3 separate regions of the Homo sapiens genome follow, and regions 1 and 3 are each reported to be linked to region 2. The links are microRNA targets in miRTarBase. Many come from high-throughput screens and were not tested one by one. Region 2 holds a microRNA gene; each other region holds the end of a gene's coding sequence.

Evidence for each region. Region 2 holds the annotated microRNA hsa-miR-429 (UAAUACUGUCUGGUAAAACCGU, at 4,569-4,590, opposite strand). A microRNA usually pairs through its seed, bases 2 to 8, with sites in the 3' UTR of a target mRNA and lowers its output. Matches are read on the target gene's strand: a 7mer-m8 pairs with bases 2 to 8, a 7mer-A1 pairs with bases 2 to 7 and ends in A, and an 8mer does both.
Region 1: the mRNA of ZFHX4 is a reported target of hsa-miR-429. Seed matches in the 3' UTR shown: 7mer-A1 at 2,113-2,119.
Region 3: the mRNA of SHOX2 is a reported target of hsa-miR-429. Seed matches in the 3' UTR shown: 8mer at 4,588-4,595.

The regions. Positions count from the first base shown.
Region 1 is chr8:76,863,793-76,870,986 of GRCh38, forward strand. ZFHX4 (zinc finger homeobox 4) reads left to right here. Exons shown (of 11, transcript NM_024721.5): 11 at 1-3,489. The coding sequence ends at 773. Among named protein-coding and RNA genes, the nearest start is that of MIR3149, 99 kb to the right of the region's middle.
Region 2 is chr1:1,166,451-1,173,644 of GRCh38, reverse strand. It overlaps MIR429 (microRNA 429), which reads right to left and starts at 4,640; the gene lies at 4,558-4,640. MIR200BHG (MIR200B, MIR200A and MIR429 host gene) reads right to left here. Exons shown (of 2, transcript XR_007065348.1): 2 at 3,307-7,194. MIR200B (microRNA 200b) reads right to left here and starts at 6,541; the gene lies at 6,447-6,541. It overlaps MIR200A (microRNA 200a), which reads right to left and starts at 5,782; the gene lies at 5,693-5,782. It also overlaps TTLL10-AS1. RefSeq lists an enhancer at 2,272-2,839.
Region 3 is chr3:158,092,113-158,099,306 of GRCh38, forward strand. SHOX2 (SHOX homeobox 2) reads right to left here. Exons shown (of 5, transcript NM_001163678.2): 5 at 3,793-6,172. The coding sequence ends at 5,915. Among named protein-coding and RNA genes, the nearest start is that of SHOX2, 11 kb to the right of the region's middle. RefSeq lists an enhancer at 5,886-6,055.

The DNA of each region.
Region 1 (7,194 bases), not on the chromosome of region 2:
CCAACGATGCTTCAGAAACAAAGGAAGACAAAAGTACTGCTACAGAAAGCACAAAAGAAGAACCCCAGTTAGAATCCAAAAGTGCAGACTTTTCAGACACTTACGTTGTTCCATTCGTCAAGTATGAGTTTATATGCAGAAAGTGCCAGATGATGTTTACTGATGAAGACGCCGCAGTAAATCATCAAAAGTCCTTCTGTTATTTCGGTCAGCCTTTGATTGACCCACAAGAGACAGTGCTTCGTGTCCCAGTCAGCAAATATCAGTGTCTTGCCTGTGATGTGGCTATCAGTGGGAATGAAGCACTTAGCCAACACCTCCAGTCAAGCTTGCACAAAGAGAAAACAATCAAACAAGCAATGAGAAATGCCAAAGAGCATGTTAGATTATTACCTCACTCAGTCTGCTCCCCTAATCCTAACACCACATCTACCTCGCAGTCTGCAGCTTCTTCTAATAACACCTATCCTCATCTTTCTTGCTTCTCCATGAAGTCCTGGCCTAATATCCTTTTCCAAGCGTCTGCCAGGAGAGCTGCTTCTCCCCCTTCTTCTCCTCCTTCCCTTTCCTTGCCTTCAACGGTTACCTCAAGTTTGTGCAGCACCTCAGGGGTTCAAACCTCACTACCCACAGAAAGTTGTTCAGATGAGTCTGACAGTGAGCTGAGCCAGAAGCTAGAAGACTTAGATAATTCTTTGGAAGTGAAGGCTAAGCCTGCTTCTGGCCTAGATGGTAATTTCAATAGCATCCGAATGGATATGTTCAGTGTGTAGGAGTGAAGACAGGATCCCGTGCTTAAAAAAATAAAAAATAAAAAAATAAAAAAAAAATAAGACTTTAACTGCAGTTCCAAAGCTTCTCTAACCCAAAAATTACAGTACCAAATGATTGACTCAGGATTGTTTTTCCCATATTGATATGCTGGCAATATAGGATGGTATGTAATGGACAGAACTGATGCAGATGGTTGAATGCGCTTGTACTATATGCTAAAATATGGAAAAGGAAAAAAAAATCTCACAAGTTCTTTTGGAACTTGTTTCAAGCCAAAAACTCTCAAGAAAGCAAATTGCACCTCAGCTGGATTGATTTCCAAATGCTAGCATGTACTGTATGGGAGGATGATCCAGATGTTTCAAAGAGAATTTCTCTTAGTTTAGTTAGGTGTAATTCAGTAGCTTTAAATTCTCAGGTCAGAACATAACATTTCTCATTTGTTAAAAGCAGCAAGAAGCCTGGTAAAACTGTGACTTTTCCCCAAACGTCAATCTTTATTAGAAAGCATTTTCTAGGTGTGTTTAGTGTACAAAGAGACTTTATAACCCTTACTGGACAACACACAGATCCTTGAGCTCACGCTGCAGGATAGTACAGTTTTACCGCAGAGGGAATCTGGAACAGTGGAATCATGTGTCTGCCCTGTGTATTGCAGTTTGTATTGCCACAAGCTATATTTATACCAGTGTCACCCTTTTCTTGTAGAATATACTAATAATCTGTGCCAACTCTACCTTCTCACTTTTACCTCTGACGTCATTCTTTTTTTCTGAAAGAGGTAATAATTCTAGTTTTGATAGACTCTGAGGATTATGTGAACAGGACATTTTTCATTTGTGAATTTAATGCTATACTGTCAAGGTACTTGCTTGTGTCTGAACTCTAGTGCACTTATGATTTTGTAGACCATGTGAAATTTAATAAGATACCTTTTTTTTCCTTTCTTTGTGTGTAGTGCAGCAACAGTTTGGTCTGCATTTGTTAGAAGTTTAACTCCTAACAACCCAAAGACCTATTTAACAATTGGTGCATAAATGAAAGTAGTACTGTATACTTGAAACTGTTTAAGTACAAGTTGAACAAAAATTATGAAAAGGTATATTTGCTTCTCGGGAAAGCAAAGAAGCTGCTTTAAAAAATAAAAAGGGGACTAAAAATTTGTTTTGTATAAAGAGGTTAGCCCTGCGCACGTAGGACTGAATTCAGTGATATCCCTATACACTGCCATTTAGTGGATAGGTTATTGTACTTCCATTCATACTCTGGGCACTTGTGTTGTATTGTTCTGTTACATACTTTTTTTAACCTGTTTTGTTTTATCATATATGCATTAAAAGTATTATCTTTATCAACATTTGCTGCTACTGTGTTAACATTTTTGTTTTGCTTGCCATGAATTTCAACTTCCACCACCCAGTGAATTGATTTATAAATTGCTATGCTTTGCTGTTTTTCTGTTGCTGTGGAACTTAAAGAATGTGAAAGCTGTCAAAGGGTATTTTACGAATCACTTTTGTGTTTGATATAGTAAAACAATGTGATTCATTCCAAAGTAACAGAAGGTTATTTGTAAGAAAGTTAAAGGCTTGTGAACAAAGAAAGCTAAGCTGTTGTACATATTTGTAGTTGGCTGTGCATGGTACAAATTTATTAATATGAAGAAATGCAAAATGTATTGCTTTTGATATTTCTCTTCCGAGATGAACAAGTAGCATGTAATGCAACTGTTTGACAGTTTAACTCAAGTCATGCTTCAAACTGTTTTAATGATCAAATCAAGACACATTTCATTTTACATTTTATTATTGTACAGTTTTTGTTTCGGATGATGATCACAGCAATCTTTATTCTATACATTTTATGTGAACTTTTTTAATGTCTTTAATTTGGATTTTTTTTTTTTTTAGTATTTTAACATTTATTTTAATCCTGAAGACACTTTTTTGATTGTGTTTCGTAAGAGACAACATGGCCTCCTAAGGTGCAATCCTGCCGCTATAGTGAGCTAATGTCCTGAATCCAAAGGCTTCAGAAAATTGCTTTTGCCTTTTTCATGAATGTTAAGCAGCAGCATTGTGAGATCGATCTGTCCTGGCAGTTAACACGATGTGCAACAGTGTGTTAGCATGGAACAGAACGCTTTTCACAAAACAAAGGACTGTTTTACAAATGATTATTCCGACAGTGTGTCGACATAAACTTTTACAACTGCACAGCAGCCAAAAAAAGAAAAAAAAAAGAAAAAAAACTTTAACTGGATGGACGTTGTTAGGGTGAGAAATAAAAGGACAGCCTCCAAAGGTTGAGAATGAGAATTGTTTTTTCCTGGATATCAAAGGGATTATCACAGCGCAATCATTGTCTACACAACATGTACTCTCAACGCCTGGGTTACATAGGAAATGCACCCTGAGGTTTTAATAAAAGCCCCTATGGCTATAACTTTAAATAAACTAAACCAAAAATGTTATTGATGTTTTATATATAGAGAGTAGTCTCATTAGTTTTTGTTACTGTAATGTTTGAAGTCTCAAATGCACCGTATTACGGTAAATAACATGGTTTTGAAAACTTTTTTTTATTTTGTCACAGACCTGTTGTCATAGTTGAAATGATGTTTATTGTAGATGGTATTTGAACTTATTCTTCTGGAAATAGTTCATCAAGTATGTTTGTTGCTCATTGTGATACATTAAAAACTGTATCTACATATTTACTATGTGTTTTCTTTCTGAGTTGACTTTGCAATATTTGCACAAGGTATTAATTTCCCCCACCTGAAGGTGACTTAAGGGAGGCCACTTGAATTACCAGATTGCTCTAACAGGAGTCTGTGTTAAGCAGCCACTAAGCAATCCAGAAAAATAGACACATGGATTATTAAAAGTTAAATAACGGCATTATTGTCAACACATTTTAATGGCACAAAAATGTTAGCATGTCACATAAATAATTGTGATTTTTTTTAGGCCAATTCTATATCCTTTAACAGGCAAACTCATGCTTCTCAGTAGCACTCTTTATGCCTACAATGGGTATCCACACTTTAATGTTCCATATGCTGCATGCCCTGTTAGATTTTAAAATCTGGCAAACAGATTTTGACAAATGGAATAATTTCATTTCAGAGTTCATTAACTTATTACTTTTAGTATTACTGCTAGAATTTCAACACCTGTATGTTGCTTTTGGATATAGACCAGACACTTTTTCATTTATACTGAATGCAAACATTCCCTCTCACAAAGCTCACTTCATCTGCGAGTCAGCTAAAGAAGAAATGAAAGGTCCATTCTGCTTAGTGTTCTCAGTGGGTTCTCACCCCTAGCCCTCTCAACTGAACACAGAAAACTTTTAATTCAGAGCATCGCTTTTCAACCCACTCTTATCATTGATAATGGCAGAAGGCAAAGCATTTTGCACGTGGTTTTTCTTCCTTATTCTGCTCTTTGCTCAGACCCACCAATTTCACTCAAGTTGGAAAGCCCCCAAAGAAACGAATTCTGTGTTATAAGGTACAGATAAACCTCAAATAGAAAATATAAATAGGTTGATTTGGAAATGTAGTAGAGGTTCCCTTGTTTTACATGCTTTCTTGGCATTATCGAGCTATTTTCTAGTGCATCACTGGAAGTGAATAAAAGCTGCTTTCATTGTATTAGGCAGGTCACAACTCTTTTCCTGTTGGCAGCAGTGACAGAAAACCATTAGGATAAGGCTAGATTGTAGCTTCTGTGCTGAAATCAAATATTCAAAAGGCAAAACATTTAACACACTACGCTTGTACCTCTGAGACCATGTTTTAAGTTTGAGGCCAAGTTCAGGTCCCTGTTAAAATGAACTTTCTGATCTTGGTTCCCTCCCTAGTGATCACTTGTCTGCATTGAAAAACTGAATGTTAACCTGACTTTTTTTTTCCTAACATAGAAAAGCCTGGATTGTCATGGTAAAAGATATATTTCCTCATGTATAAAAGTATTCCTGTATAATATTTATTGTAGGACCAGAAGGGCCTTGTTCAAATGCCATTAAAGGGAGAAAGCAAAGCCCCATGGTGGTATCAGAGGAAGTATTATTTCTCTAGTGAACCAAATTCACATGTTTTAGCAGATCAAAAGTAGCAATGAACTTGGTAAGGTTAGCCTACCTACCTATCACAAAAATGATGGTATAGTTCCATGGGATTTTTATTTTGCTCTTTTCAAGAGTGAACCAATAAGTTGGTTACTGGTTGAACCAGTACTGTTAGAGCCCCAAACCCCACTCCCACTGGACTAGACTAGATTCCCAGAGTTTTGTGCCCACACTGGCTCATTTTCCTGCAATGTGTGTTTACTGTATATCCATTTATTGAACAACAAAATATTCTAGGTATGGTCCCTAAAGATGTAGCCTGTCATATAGTAGATATTCAAACTCAGGAAAAGGATAACCTCACTTGTAAATAGTTCTCTATGAGTTTTATACAGTGAGTTTGGGAGTCTCTACTCTACGCAACACTATATGGACATCTTTCCATTTTATCCTCACAGTAACCCACAAAAGTAAGTGATATGAGCCTTTCCTCTTCTATAAATGAGAATTGAAAATTTGATGCTCTCCAGCTGATGCAGCAGAGGTAGGATTGAGTGTCAGGTTTATCTGGGATCAAAGTACTGCCCCTTAGCTGTCTTCTCCATTTTAAAGTGTTCTCTTGTTACAAGGCTAGTTTTAGTATTATATATGGAGGCTTCAAACATGGCTGTGTATTTCAGGGCCTCAAGTAATTCCAAATATGCCAGACTGTCTTGATATTCTCCATTGTAGAGGTCTTCAAGATGGACCACCCTCACACCTCCAACCACATTTTCCAATTTTATCTTTACCCTGCACAACATACCCTCTGCATCCAAGTCAAATCTCACTACTCATTTTCATGGTCAGAACTTGTTTGACTTTACTCATCTGGTCTTGGCTTGCATGTATTAGTACAGAAATCAAACTGCAAACTCAGATATACAGAAATATAACTTTATTTTTCTCTAATCAACTTAATTTCTATTTGAATTCCTCTTTCTACTGTGATTAAGAAAAGTTAATAGAAGTCAAGCAGGAATTAATACATAAATTTCAGGGCCCAGTGCAAAATGGAAATGCAAACCCCTTGTTAAAAAATTATTCAAAATCATGAGATGGCAAAAGCAAAGCATTGAACCAAGCACTGAACCAAGCACTGGACTCTTCTGAAGGACAGAGTCCTATGTGACCGCATAGGTCACACACTCATGAAGCTGGCCTTACCGTCAATTTTGGATTCCTCCTGTCCCTGTGATTATGTCTAAATTCTGGGGGACTTACATGGTACACATTGTGGAAAGGAGACATTGAATGCTTGGTGTCCACTTTCCGTGATATCTGCTGAGGGAGCCCCTCTCTTTGGCCTTTCCTTTTTGGTCCAAGAAAGTTGCCTCATTCTCATCCGATGCTCTTCTACCTCCTGCCACTGTTGCTCCAGGGAACAACTTAAAGGTCAAGAAGACCTTTAAGTCTGCCTTATACCAAAACTCATCCCTGCCCTCAAACTCTCATCTATCTAGTGGTCCCGCCCCCTCTTGGAACTTTGCTAGAGGGGAAACACAGGATCCTATTTGAGGATCCTTTCACTCCACTTAACCTAGAGCATCCTGACCTTGTCCCAGGCCTGGAGGTTTGCATCTTTTTTGAGTTTCTTCTGTACCCTGAATCCTTTTTATTCCCTTCAAGCCCTAAGCTATGGAACCACAAAACCCAGGAAGGGGTTCCCTTCTCTCTCTTCCTTCTGCTTTTGACATACCCTGAAATAGAGAATATCCCAAAGTAAAGTCGTCCCAGGGGAGCAGAAATTATGAAGTTGTTTGGGAGTGCTGGGGTTGGGAGGTAAGAGTGAAATATTGGGAGGAAAAAAATTGATTGATATTTAAATATATTATCTGGCTGCATATGATATTCCCAGGGTTGTAAGGAATATATGTGTGAGCCCCACAGTGGGTATTGAACTCACCACCTCCTTAGATACCCTATGCCATTTTTAGAAACAACTTTCATTACCTTAAATATTCCCTTTAGTGTTTATAAAACTTACACAAGTAATCGCTATGTCATAAGTGTTTTACATTAATACATTAACTCGTATGAACTAATTTAATCTTCCCAAGAAGCCTACCAAGCAGGCAGTATTATTATGCTGTTATAAAGATAAGGAGAGTGAGCTACAGAGATATTAAGTGATGTGCTCAAGGTCCCATAGTGAAGGAGTCACTGAACCTGAATTTGAACTCAGGCAGAGAAATTCTAGAGACCTTATCTTAACCACTATTCCCTCTCACTTCCCCAAGAAGAGAACAAATTTTGCATTGGTGTAACTCCTATCTGCAGGTACTAGGGTAATGTGAGATAAAA
Region 2 (7,194 bases):
GGTCCCTGAGCCGTCTCTCAGGCCCCACCCATGCTCAGCACCCCAGGACCTGGCCCGGGCCAGGCTCTGCGTGCACCCTGGTGATGTTGGCTGGATACACGGCTGCCGATCCCTGAGCATTCTCTGTGCTTCACGTGGTCGGGTCCCTGTTCTCACTCCACAGCGGACGAGGTGCCACTGTGCCCCCCTCTGCAAACAGGAACCGGGGGCTCCACAAAGTGAGTGCCCCCCAGAGGGGGACTCACATCTATCGGTCCAAACTGCACCTTTCTGTAAGCCCCTCGCTGTGTCACAGACCTCGGCCAAAGTGAAGCATTCCGCAGGGGTTTGGGCCGTGAGGAACAGCCTGCCCGACACCTGACTTGAACACTCTGCGGGGAAAAACACCGAGGAACATCACGATTACCTTCTGCGGGAACAAGGGCCAAACAAACGGCCTCATCCTGAAGCCGTGTGGCCCGGGCCGCTCCCACCCATACCTATAGGCACCCCAGCCCGTAGGCGGCAGTGGGCTCTGGCATCCAGCTGGTCCCCCACCTCTGCAGGTGTTTGCAATGTACCCGTGTTGATGTAAGGCTGCCCTTTCTCCATCTCTGTGTGTCTTTGTTTAACCCTCACATTCTCTCTTTTTTTTTTTTCAAAATACGGAGTCTCACTCTTTTGCCCAGGCTGGAGTGCAATGGTACGGTCTCGGCTCACTGCAACCTCCGCCTCCCAGGATCAAGCAATTCTCCTGCCTCAGCCTCCCGAGTAGCTGGGATTACAGGTGCCCACCACAGTGCCCAGCTAATTTTTGTATTTTTAATATTAATTTTATTTTTTATTTTTATTTTGTTTTATATTTTATATATTTATTATTTTATATATTATTTTCTATATTATTATAATTATTTTATTATTAATTTATTATTAATTTTAGAGGGTTTCATCATGTTGGCCAGGCTGCTCTTGAACTCCTGACCTCAGGTGATCCGCCCGCCTCGGCCTCCCAAAGTGCTGGGATTACAGGCGTGAGTCACTGCGCCTGGCCTGCCCTCGCCTTCTCTTTAAAACACCTAATGATACGAGGTCTGGGAGTCCTGGGCTCCTGGCATGACCCATGGCACGGTCTGATCCCCTCTGCCTCAAACTCTGAGCCTCCAGCCACGTGTCCCCTACCCATCCGTGTCCTTCAGAGCTTTGCGTGGGTCACGAGGGCCTCTGTGCTTAGGGTCCCCTTGCAGGGGGCTGGTGGTGCCCCCAAAAGACAACCACATCATAGCCCTGAAACCTCGAATGTGACCTTATTTAGAAGAAGGGGCTTTGCAGGTGGGGTTACGTCAGGATCTCTAGTGACATCACCCAGGGCAGGCCCTGAATCAATGGCCTCTGCCCCCCTGAGAGGGAGGTGGAGAGAGGAGACGCAGACGTGGGGGAGACGCCGTGGGACTGGGGGGCAGAGATGGGTGACACGGCCACAGCCACTGATGCCTGAGCTGGCAGGGGCTGGGGAGGCAGACAGGGTCCTCTCCTGGAGCCCCCAGAGGGGTGCAGCCCTGCCTGCCCTGTGGCTTTGGAGTTCTGGCCTCCAGATGCGGGCGTAAGCGTCTGTTGTTGTGCCTGCCTGTGTGGTTTTTCAGCAGCCGGGAGGAGAAGCCACCCTTTCGAGAGTGTGGTGCCCGCTCCGGAGCCGCCTCCCCGACCCACGCCGGGGCGGCAGCCTGGGGGTTCCCCGCTCTGTGTCCCTGGGGCCTGAGCTGTGGGGGAAGAAGGGGCCCCGGCTGTCCCTGGGGAGTCCCTGGAAGGAAGAGAGAGCTCTCGGAAGCGGGGCGGTGGGGGGCGTCTCCCACCGTCCTCCTGGTTCTGTCCAGCTGGGAACAGTGTCCTCGTCCCCTCCCCGCACTCCCACCTTGCGCCTGGTGCTCAAGCTTTGAGATGGTCCCGCTGGACCCTGGTGCGGAGCAGACCCAGGAGGCCCCTCTGCCCTCTGGGAGCCTCAGGTCAGGTGGCAGGTGGGGCTGGGGCAGGTCCTGGGCTGAGTGGCTGGGCCTTCGGGGAGCAGGGCCCACTTGGTGGGGGTGACGGGTGGGGGGTTCCTTCGGTGGCTGCTGTGGCTCTCCAGGCTGGGAGCAGCAGATCCGGGTTCGGAAGCTCTGACTCTGGGAAGGGGCCTACGTGTGTCCCCTCCTCCCTGAGGCTGAGGCAGGTGGCCTGACAGGAGCTGATGGGGATGGGAAGGACTCGCCCAGCTCCTCTCCAGAACTGGCCCTTCCGGGAACAGAGCAAGGCAGGGTCCTTGCCCCTGGGCTGGGAGGGAGAGCCCCGTGTTCATCTTTGTGGCGCACCGGCCTTTGGAGGATGTGATCTGGACACACACCTCGGAGGACGGGTTTCCTTGTGTGGGGGGAGAGGGGGTGCAGCGGGCAGGTCCCCCAACCCCTGCAGCCTCCCCTCCCTGGGGCCCCACACAGGCCTGAGGACTCCCCACCGCCCTCAGAAGCCCCCAGGCTCCCCAGCCAGGCACTACCTCGTCCCTCACAGCTTTCCTGAGTTCAAACTTGAAAACTCTGCCCCTTAATCCCAAAATCTGGGTGGTGTGGCAGCCACGGATACCTGTAGCCCCAGCAAGGTTCCTGCGCAGGGCAGGTGGGAGCAGGACCTTGGGCCGTGGGTGTGCCCGGCCCGCGTGTCCAGGTGGGTGCAGCCCCCAGGGCCAGGCAGAATGGGGGAGGCCTGGCACCTCTCGGGCAGTGGGTGGGGTCTCCAGGCAGGCCAGGCCCTGCCACTGGAAGGGAGGTGGCCCCTTTGCCACCAACCTGTGGCTGTCACCGGGGCAGGTGTGGCTGGACCAGGAAGCCCTCCTGGCTGGCGCCTGGCTGCCTCCATCCTGTCCGCAGCCCTCGCTCCTGCTGGCCGGCACCATACGCTCTTGGTCACCTGCTCAGAGAGGCCCCCCAGGGCCACCGGCTGCCCCCTCGGTAGCTCCCTTCAGCACAGGCTGAGGTGTCTCCACTCAGGGACTCCCCCTTCCCCCAGAACCTTGACCTGAGCTGACCACAGGAGAGTCAGGGAAGATTCCTGAGCAAAAGAAGGAGGGAGGGAGGGACGGAGAGAGGAGGAGGAGGGAGGAGGGGGAAGGAGGGATGGAGGAGAGGAAGGAGGAGGGGGAGGGAAAGAGGAGGGAAGGGAGGGAGGGAGCCTCTCCCAGGAACCTTGGGGGCCTCCGGGGCCGGATGCAGTGTCTGGGGTTCTGTCCTCAGCTGGGCCCTTTGCACGGCGGGGGTCTGTGCACGTGTGGTTAAAATAAGGAGCTGGTCCAAGCATGGGTGCGTGAACTGCAGACTTTATTACTATACAAAGACTTTTTTCTGTTTTGTTCCCGGTGCTTATGGAGAGGAGGAGGAGGAGGAGAAACCGCACAGGGAGGCTCTGGGTACGGCCCCGCCAGCCCCAGCAGGGTCCTTCCTGTCACACCCCGTGCAACGCAGCAGGCGCTGTGGAGAGTGAGCCCCACTGCAGTGTGGGGCGCAACTTCATCCGAGGGGTGCTTGGAGGGACTGGCCAGACGGGCACAGCGGTGAGGAGGTGCTGGGATGGGGAAGGTCCCCGAGCTCCGGGCGGTGTTGGATGAGCTCAGGCTCACAGGTGTGGCCCTGCCTGGCCCGAGCTCTCCAGGTGTGTCCAAACCTTGTGTTATATGCACCTTGCAGTCCAGGGCTCACCCGTGCGGTCTGGTGAGGTGGACGCCACATTCTGGGGGTGGCACTCCAAGTTCTTCCCCACACACGTCGCTCAGGCGGCAGCAGCATGGGGGTGGTTTCAGCTGGCCCTGCGGGGGACTGCCCCATCTCCCCAGGGAGGAAAGAGGGTCTGGAGATAGCCCCGGGTGGGGGAGGTCAACCTGCAGATCCCGGCTTGGGGACAGCTCCAGATGACACCTCGTGAGCCGCCTGGGGTGGAGGGGCCCCCAGTGCAGGGCTGCGTGGCCCCAAGCACCTGCCTTCCCTATCCCATGGTCTTGCAGCTGGGCACCGGCCCCGCCCGCCTCAGCCCCAGAGATGGGCCCTGGAGGGAGAGTGTGGTCTGCATCCCACGGCTGGCCCCTGGAGGAGGAGGGCCAGGGCTGGCCCCGGGAACCTCCCAGAGGTCTCTGCGTCCTGCTGCCTGGCCGCTGAGACGCTGTGACATTGTCCCTGCTGGGCATTTGTGCTCCTCCGTGCCCTGGGCTCAGGCACTTTGGGGGGCCCAGCTGCTTCTGTCTCAGCCTCCCCAGGTGGCGAGGGGGCTGGGGCTGTGGGGTGGGGCTCCGGGTATCTGTGACTGTGACCCCAGGGGCCAGGCTGATAGCACGGGGTCCACAGCATCTGCCCGGGGACTACAGCTCGAGGGCCCCAGGAGGCCGGGTGGGCACAGGCCATGGCGAGGGTGGGGCACAAGAGCCCCAGACCCCGGCGGCTTTGCACTGATGGGCTGCGGATGGGCACAGGCCATAGTGAGGGGGGCATGAGAGCCCCAGACCGGGCGGCTTTGCACTGATGAGCTGCAGGGCAGGCAGCTCTCTCCTCTAACGGTGATCAGGCAGCGGATGGACGGTTTTACCAGACAGTATTAGACAGAGGGCCAGGTCTAACCATGTCTGGTAAGACGCCCATCGGCCGGCGGTGGTGTGGGTGGCCTCCGGGTCCTGGGCTGGTGTCTGCGGGGCCTGTGAAGGGAAGGCCCCGGGGGCGGCTCCTGCCACCTCCTGCAGCTGCCCTGATCCCTCCTGGGTCTGCAGAACGAGCCCCCGAGGCACTTCCCTGACAGCCCCCATCCCAGCACCTGGTCCCAGCCCAGCCTGGCTGTGTGGGGGTACCCGGGAGCCACCTGGTCACCCAGGCCCTGCTCTTGGCAAAGGTTCCCTGCAGCCCCTCGCTGGCTTCCTGAAGCTCGGTCGGGTTAATGAGTAACAGTGAAGGGCAGCCTCTCCCCGGTGGCTGCCCCCTCCCCAGGCTGGGGCCTTGTGTGGGGGTGCGGTCCCAGGCGCCCTGGTTGCAGATGGAAAAGATGAAACAATGGGTCATCCTGGCCTGGTGGGTTTTGGACAAAGTTCCTGTTCTTGTTGACTGGGGGAAGGAATGAGACCCCTTGTCCCTCAGAGGGCAAGCGCAGAGCGTCCCCGCTCCCCTGCATGGTGGGGCTCGGGAATCTGAACCCACCTTGTCCTTCCTGCGCCCCCAGCAGACCCTCCACGGAGCCCGGACCACGTGAGAGAGGCCACTGTTGCTCTTCCCTCTCCAGCCCTGGCATCCCAGCCCTATGGCCTTTCCTGGAGCCAGGTCACCCTAAAACCCAGCCTGGGAGGTTGGGTGGGGGAGGCACAGCGGCTCCGGGAGGGGGAGCAGGATGCCCTCCAGGCCACCTGTGGAGGCACCAAGGGGTCCTCAAGGTGTCAGACCCAGCCTGGGCGTGAGTGACCCCGGGGGCACCCCCGGCAGAGGCCGGCCCCTCCCCTGGGGGCTGGACTTCGGAGCTGACACAGGCCCTCTGCCGCCCGCTCAGCCCTCCGCCCTCACCCGTCTGCTGGCCCCGCTCGGCCCTCCGCCCTCACCCGTCTGCTGGCCCCGCTCGGCCCTCCGCCCTCACCCGTCTGCTGGCCCCGCTCGGCCCTCCGCCCCAGCCCATCCCTGGAGTAGGAGCTCCGGATGTGCCTCGGTGGTGTCCCCGGCGAGCGGCGGGTCACCTTTGAACATCGTTACCAGACAGTGTTAGAGTCAAGCTGGGAAATCCAGCACTGTCCGGTAAGATGCTCACAGGGGCCCGGGAGGGACGTGGGGTCCCGCCAGGCAGGCAGGGGCTGCTGTGGAAGCCCAGGGAAGAACCGGAGCGGTGAGCAGCCAGGGGTGGTGCCGGGACCGGACAGGGCTGGCGGAGAGGGGCTTGGGGGCCCTGAGACTGCACACAGGCCCACCCTCCCTGCTTCCTCCAGGGCAAGGGGACCCTGGGGCTGCTGACCCGGGACCAAGGCGGGGGCACTGGTCTGCTCGGTGGCCGGCCCACCCTGTCCGGCAGGAGGGAAGATGGCTGTGGCCAAGCTGGGTGGGGCGGCTTCCTCTGGGTTCCACGTGGCTCCCGGTTGGGCCTTGCCCTCCTGAGCCCTCTGTTGGGTCCTGCTCGGCCCGCACCTGCTGGGTGTGACAGCAGCTCCCGCCCAGGCGCTGTGGGCAGGGCCCGGACACCTGAGCGTCCTAATCCCCAGATCACTGTGGGGCGCCCTGGGTGCAGCTGCAGGAGGCCTTGCATTCCGGGGTCTCTGAGATGCTGGTGGGGGGCGCCCCAGCCCCCTTCCGAAGGTCACGTCCCCCCGTCACTCTCCCCAGAGCCATCTGGCCCGGACGGGGTGGGGTCCGGTGAGCGGGCTGTGTGGGAGGGGAGTGTGGGGCTCGGCGGGAGGCCCTGGGGGCCGGGACGGGGTCGGCCGGTCGCTGCGTGCAGGGCTCCGCCGTCATCATTACCAGGCAGTATTAGAGACCTGACTCCATCCAATGCTGCCCAGTAAGATGGCCACGGCTGCCCGAGCTGGGTCCGGGGGCCGCCCGGCTGAGGGTTGCATGGGACTCGCTGGGAAGCTCAGTAGCTGGGGGGCCTCGTCCTCCTGGGGCACTGAGGACAGCATCGCCGGAGGGCAGGGGCCCGGGTGAGCCCCACCCGCCAGCCCTGCCGAGTCCAGCAGCCACCAGCTTTGGGTCCTGGGGTGGGCACCTGGGGGGCCGAAGTGTCCTGGCCAGACGGCCGAGGACTAGGTCGGAGTGGGGCTGACACGGGCCCTCTGCCCGCCCCGCTCGGCCCTCTGCCCCCACCCCTCTGCGGGGGACCTTCCCTCTGGGTGGTCCCATAGGAAGGCCTGGACAGCAGCCCCAGCCCCCCGGGCCCCACGTGCTGCCTTGTCTGAGGCAGGGGACAAGGGCCTCTGTCTCCAGGATGGTGTTCCAGGAGCTGCTTCCCTGCCCAGCCCCTTCTCTTCTCAAAGGCCCGGTGTCTGCGAGGCTCTCGAGACAGAACGGTCCCCGCCACCTGGAGACCCCTCTCCCATGCTGCCCCGCTCACTGCACAGCGTCTGAGGGCAGGGGGTGCAGGCGGGGGTGGGGGTGGGGGTGTGGGTGGGGGTGCGGGCGGGGCAGGCTCCTGACCCTGCCCAGCCGTCCCTGCGGTTTGTGTGTCTGCTGGTCTGGGGTC
Region 3 (7,194 bases), not on the chromosome of region 2:
AATTAGCCAGAATCACAAACTAACAGGCAATGTTTTCTTCTTGCCCACAAGAGAAAGCTTTTCTTGTCTTGCAACACTTTATTGTTTTTTTCTTTTAAGGTTTTTATTACAAAGGTCAATGTCTATTGGCCTTTTAATAAAAGTAATTATTATTTAGTACTTAGTATACATATGCAAGGCATTGTTCTAAGGGTTTTACAAATATTAACTCATTTAATCCTCCTAACCATTCCATGAGATAGACACTATTTTTATCCACATTTTACAGATAAGGAAACTGAGGGACAGAGAGATTAACTTGTCCAAAATCAGAGGACTGGTAAACAGTAGCAGTGAAATTTGAATCCAGCAGTGAAGCATAGCTCCACAGTGTGTGCTCTTAAACATACACTATTCTGCTTGAATAAGAGTCTACAAAGATCCTTACTCAGGACATATGAGGAGTTGTTCAGCAAGAAAAGAAGCATGTTTACTCCTCCCTATTTGATGTATTTGATTATATTCTAAAACCTTTCCTCATGCCAATAGAACTCCGCGTATTATACTAAACTTTCCTGCACCGAAGGCATATGTAATGGTTACCTTGACTGACATGTAAAATACCCAAAACAAAATACCCCGAGACTCGAGGATTTTTTGTTTCATGAATTAGACACCAAAAAAAAAATTGTCTAGGCATCAGAAGTGTTATACACTCACATCTGTAAGTCTTTCTTGGGATTTTCAGATTTCTTATACAAGATTTTTTTTTGTCTGAAATATTTCAGTGCTCACTCAATGCCTGAGCTTGAAAATTATCTAATCCTTTTTAATTTTTTCATTTTCAGCTACTTTGCCTTCAGGCATAGGGCAGGGCAAGCACTTGCTTTCAATATGATGTTTAACACTTTTTATGTTTTTATTTTCGTCATCTTGAAAACATGCTAGTAAACATCCAAACATACTGTAAAGATTTAAAATTTGGGGTGTGTATACGTATATCAACAGGAGTTATGAATTATGTATATTGCAGGCCTATATAAATTAGATTTTGAAGAACAAGCATCACAGTAATCAAGCGGGTCATAATAAGACATTCCATGTGAAATGTAAAAACTACCTTGAATAAATTATCTGTAAGTTAACATTCTCATTAGAATGACATATTTATTATTTCTGGGTTTGTGATATTGCTTTAATGTATTTTGGCTAACTGTTTTAATGGCATATTAAGAAACCATTTCAGGCCTTTTTTCCCCGTTGGAATTTGCAGACTTTTATTTCCGTTTGAACTAAAATAATATAATATTAAAAACAATCCCCCACTTCCCAATGTACAATACCATTTTCTTCTGCCCAGAAATATTTAATTAAAGCAGGATATAACCTCAGTAATTATTTTTACACAGAATGACTCTTAAATTAATAGTCAGTTGTATGACTAAAAATTGGGAGACTGACAATCAAAACAATCTTAAATGCTTTGTTTATGTGATGAAAATGAGTGATCCTTTAATTCCCTCACACACATTAAACTGATTTCACAGATTTTCTGTACTGGTGTTTAACATAGTCAAGTGCTTGAGGTTATGTAAAATAAACAATCTTGAGATCTTATTGCAAATGTTTGCAATTTATGATGTAAACTGATTTGTGAAGAAAAAACAGGATCCTATGTCGCTGAAGCCAAAGAGGCATTTTTCAGAAATCAAAATAGTTCCGAAATTTGAGCATTGCATTATACTAAAGTATTACCATCTGAGGACCCAAAAAAGTTATAAATCTGGGGAAAAACTCAAAATAGATGTACATCAGTTCAGCTCCAAGCAAAGGCACCGATCTTACTATCTTACTGTGTCTCTTGTATCATAGGGTCCTTAACACTAATGATGTCTTAAACAATCTCTTTTAACTCAGTTTTTCCCAGTCATTGATTTTGCAACTCGGGAAGGTTTTGCATGCCCAAAAGATTTGGGGAGCAGAGGATGGGGGTGTCCTTTATTAATTATATTAGGATTATTGAGTTTCGACCCAAACTACAAGCATGTTGGGCCTTATTTAAATTTAAAGTGAATTCCTCAGACCCCTTCTTGGGATGGTTCGGGGAACTACGAGTTTGGAACTCTTGTTCACACACCGAGGCGCCTGCCCCAGAGTTTGGACACTGGCATTCCGGGAGAGCAGGCCTTGCGGGAGTCTGGACCCGAAGGGCGAGACTCCACAGGGCCAAGGAAAGCGGCCTCTGTCCTCCGTTAGTCTTGGGGGAGCAGACGCAAGAGGAGGCAAGGGCGCCGCGAGCTCCCCGGATGCACTGGTCCCACAGGCCGTGCCCGAGTGGAGCACTGCGAATGGGGCCAAGAAATTTTGGCCTTTCTCGCCGGACCTGGCTGCCTCCGCGGGCCTCTCCGCCTACCGCGCTCCCGCCGCGGCCCGACTCCCGCGGGTCTCCGCGCCGAACCCACCTGGCTCCTATCGCACGGGACATTCCCGACCCACCCACGCCGCGTCACTGAGCCTCTGTACCGATACCCGGCGCCTCCGCCAGCAGGGCCTGGACGCACCGCCTCCTTTGACCTCGGGCTTCCCCCGCGCTCCGCTGCTTGGGGCAGACTGGCCCCGAGAGGGAGCCACCATCTCCCCTGCTCCAGGGTCTCCAGGGTCCGAACCCGTGTTGGGATCTGGGTTAGGATTAGGGTTTGGAGCTTGGAGCCTGCCTGTTAGGACCCCCGGCCCCGGCGCCGACTGGAGCTCGCTGGAGGCCACAGGACCACGGCGGATGGCCTGGCTGCTTCAGGGCGTACCATGCCCGCAGGCAGATGTTTATTATTAAAAACTACCGACGTTCATCAACCAGGAGACCCGCAAGGCCTGCGCACTGAATACGGCCCAAATCCTGTTCAGTGGTCTTTGAAAGTTAAAAGAAAGAAACCTATCGCCCACGTCTATGCTGAGGAACAGCTTTGAATACGAGCTAAGACCTGGGAGAGGGCCAAGTGGGGGTGGTGGGGAACACTGCTGGAGGATGTGGGGCTTTGGCAGGGGTTTTACGCACCCTCCAGCACGAGGGTGGGGGGTCCCAGGGGACGCTCAGGACTCTTTCAGTCTTTGCGGAAGGTCCCGTCATCACAAGAGCCCGCGCGGGAAGGAAAGTTCCTGCCTTGGACATGGTCAGGGCCGAGTCTTCAAAGTCTCCAACTATCCCCACACAGGCAGCACCTTTGGGCTTTACTAGTGGGATTTCTTCCAGAAGGGGGCCACGACATGGGGAGAGAGAGCTCCTCATTATTTTCAAGGCCAGGCTTTTCCTAAACCCGATTCTGGCTTCCACCTTCTAAATTTAACCAATGAAGAAGCTGCTTCAGCCAACCCTAAACAGGAGTGTCAGATGGGGAATCCTCCCTCCACAGTGCCCTGGCCTGCCCGCCTTTGCGGCTCTTTTCCCGCTCCGAAGTCAGCACCTGCCCCGCTCCAGAGAGGGTCAACGAACTGGGACTGATTGTCGATTATGCCATACCAAACCCAGGTTGATTTCGCTCCGCAGGATCCCTCCTTCCTTCCTCCCAAAAGTGTCCCCAGATAAAGACTGGAATTATAGCAAAACGAATAACGAGAGTCCATCTTGGGGAAGGAAGTTACTCTATCCTATGTTATTTTACTTCTTATCTGTTCTTTCATTAATTTGGTATAACCCTGTTTCTATGCTGGGTGGATAAAATGGAGGGGGCCGGCGGAAATGCGCTCAGCGCTAACGACAGCCACAGAGCCACCCTTCTTACTGCCCCTTGACTGCGGCACGTAAGAGCAGAGGCAAGCGCTTTTCCAAGTTGGTATATTCGAGAGAGTGATACGCATTAATCAAAAGGGAAAGACTATCCCGGATATTTTAATAGTAACAGGAACAAAGATGACTCGAACCCCATCAAATGAAACGATATTTTCATTCAATTGATCGCAAAGTGTCTTCAATTAATAACTTGGCACTTATTTAAAAGGTTTAACAGAATTGGAGGCGACACATTTTGTACTGACAACACGTCATGAGATAACATCTTTTGTTTAAAATAACTTAATACACTAGAAAAAAATATGTCAAATATAAATAATTTTGTTTTCATGGAGAACAAATAGTTACAAAGCTCAACCGCATACCAAAGTTCAGTTAGAAGAGCTTTTCCTCTTTCTTGTAAATTAGAAGGTAAAACAAAAACAAAAACAAAACCCCACAAACTTAGGCTTGCTAGCGAATTGGGATACAGACTGGCTTAGTCCAAGGTATCCCAGTTTAAATAGCTACATGAATTGAAACAAACAACCAAAAGAAAAAAAAAAACAAAAAAGAAACAAACAAACAAAAAAAAAAGGTTACTTGAATAGATACACCTTTGTGAGATAAAATGCAAATGTTGAAAGTCAGTCCACACATTATAGTCAAAATAAACTTTGTTCGTGTGTATCAACATATCTTACACAAACCTAGTGCCTGTATCTAGCTGGGTGTTATTTAAGGTGAATTTGACGGGATAGAGAGGGGGAAATAAACCACTGTCTTCAAATAGGACTTCAGGAAACCAACAAGAAGGAACACAAGAAAAGGGGAATGGTGGGAACTAATACTGATTGAGCGCCTACTGTGTCTGGCACAGCGAGGCGCTGTACCTTCATTATTTCATTTGGTGGTCTTGTTTTCTTTTTCCTTTCCCCACATATTCTGCCCACCTCTGTCTTCTTAGGACAATGAGTGTAATTTTTTCCCTTTCTGACTTTTTTCTTTTGTTCCCCAGGATCAAAGACAGGGCAAATATATATATATATATATATATATATATATATATATATATATGGCAAATATATGATATATATATATGGATATATATATATCAATTTCCAGATACTTTTGGTATTGTTTTTCATAGTGAAGATGAAAATGGAGTGAGTGCATGGGAGATAAGGGGGTGGGAGGAGACACACCATCAATGGAATACAAGTAACATGCAAACCGGAATTTACTGTCAGCAGTCCAGACAGTTTTGCCATAATAATTTCTCAGAGAAATCATTGTCTGTGGCATTTTTTTGTGTTAATATTATTTTTCTCTCTCCTCGTTTTAATATTTTCTCTTTTCTTGCTCTTCCATACATGGTGGGTTTAAACTCAAAGCATCTGATTCAACGTAAAAGGAGGCCCGCCTCTCTCATCAAATTTCTCGTGTTAACGTGAACTTCGCAGAAAAAGGTCAGTTTCAAAACCTGTGAACTTCCCAGCTGCGCACTTTTTTCATCTTAGTTTTTTAAATAAGTATACCTCTTCTTTCTGCTTTGCCTTCTTAGCGCATTTTTAAAAACACACATTTAAGTTGGTAACTCCCCCCAGTCTCTCGAGAATCGTCTGGGTTGTTTTTCCATATTTTTAAATGTATAAAATACTTTAATTTTAAAATTTGTTTTTGCTCCTTGGTTCTCCAATTTCAGCTTCTGCCAAATAGCAGTTAAGAAATAAGTTCCCTTCCTCTTTTTCTCTCCCGTTTGTCTTTCGATTTTTTTGTTTGCTCATTTTTTCATTGTTAACAAGATTTTTTTTTCTATGCAAGAGTCCATCGTTGCAGCTTTGCGGTGAGCCAAACTCCGCGGTTCCAGCACTCCCCTGTCCAGTCTCTCTCCAGACTCCCCCAAACCCGCTCCTACAAAACCCAATTCTAGGCCCTCGAGTAGGAAAACGGGCAGGAGCCACGGAGCCTGCGTGCCTCGTGAGATCCCTGGTCCTGCGTGGAGTCTGGCTTTCCGAGTCCAAGATGCGATAGGGGACGAGGGATGGTCAGTGAGGCGGGAAGAGGGCCGGCTCCCGAGGTCTCAAAGGGGTAACGGAGAAGCAGCGGGGCGCGGAGGGCGTGCAGGCTGAGTGCCGCGGGACAGGCGCGACATTGGTGCTGGCGTTGGCGTCACAGACCCAGGGCTGCGGCGTGCTTTTTGGCTTTCAGTCTGAGATCGGCGATGCTGGAGTTCTTGCTGGTGGTCTTGGCGGCTGCTGCGGCCGCCACTACCGAGGCGGCGGAAGCCGAATCCGCGGCCAGCGTGGCGAGCGGCAGTCCGAAGGGCGGTGCTGGGAACATCATGTAGGGCGCGTGCGCGGCCAGGTGCGGATGCAGGTGGTGGTGCGCGTGCGCCACAGCGCTGTCCAGCTGCAGCTGCGCCTGAACCTGAAAGGACAAGGGCGTCACGTTGCAATGACTATCCTAGGGTGACAACAGAATAGAAACAGAGCATTAACGGCGTCCAGCTTGGCCAGAGAGAGAGTTGGGTTGTGTTTGGGCACGGGGAGAGGGCATTTGGCTGTGCATCTTGTTCCGACAGTGACCTTCTCAGCCTGTTGCTGAATCTGGGGTTCCACATGGATACTCCAGTGTCCCCTGGGTCTCCGAAACTCGCTTAGGGTAGGCTTATTTCCCCGGACCCCGGGAACCCCCTTCTGCAGGAATGTGGCCGTCTCCCCTGGGAACTGGGCTGAAATGGTATATTGGAAAGACTGCGGGTGAGGACCCTTACCCTCTTCTCTTGATGCTGCCATGCATCTCTTACCCCACTACCAAAACAACGGAGTATCAACAAGCAAACTACGCAACTTTTTAATGTCATTCAGGGAAGTTACTCCATCTTCACCACAATAGGCACAATTGTGAGTCGGTACTTCTAACCTTTATTGCCATAACAATTACCCAGGGATCTCGTTAAAATTCAGATTCTGATTCGCAAGGTCTAGGTTGGGGCCTGAGATTCTGAATTTCTAACAATCTCCCAGACGGTGTTGTTGCTGCTGGCCCAAAGATTACCTTTTGAGTAGTAAAGGTCTCCTTTTAAAGTCACCCCTCCCTCTTTCTTCAGTCATTCTCTCTTGTTTCCAAAGCCAAGCATCAGGATGCCAGAGTCCTGTGGCACCAAGAGAGCTAAGATCTCCCTAACACCGACTCTCAATTCATGGTCACACCTATCTGTCTCCCCGGTCCAAGTCACTGGAGACTGAGAGCTAATTCATGACATCACAGGCATGCCAAGCAGGGGTCCTGGCTGAGGATAGGGAAGGTCAGACACTGGTTGGGAAAGGATTTCGCCCTCAGGCTTGGAAAGTGGGGAGTTCAGAGCACTGGGATTTCCCAGGATTAAATCATTGCTGCAGGCTGTCCTTTTAAAATGTACTCTTAAAGGTTTCTTTATGGCTAAGGGA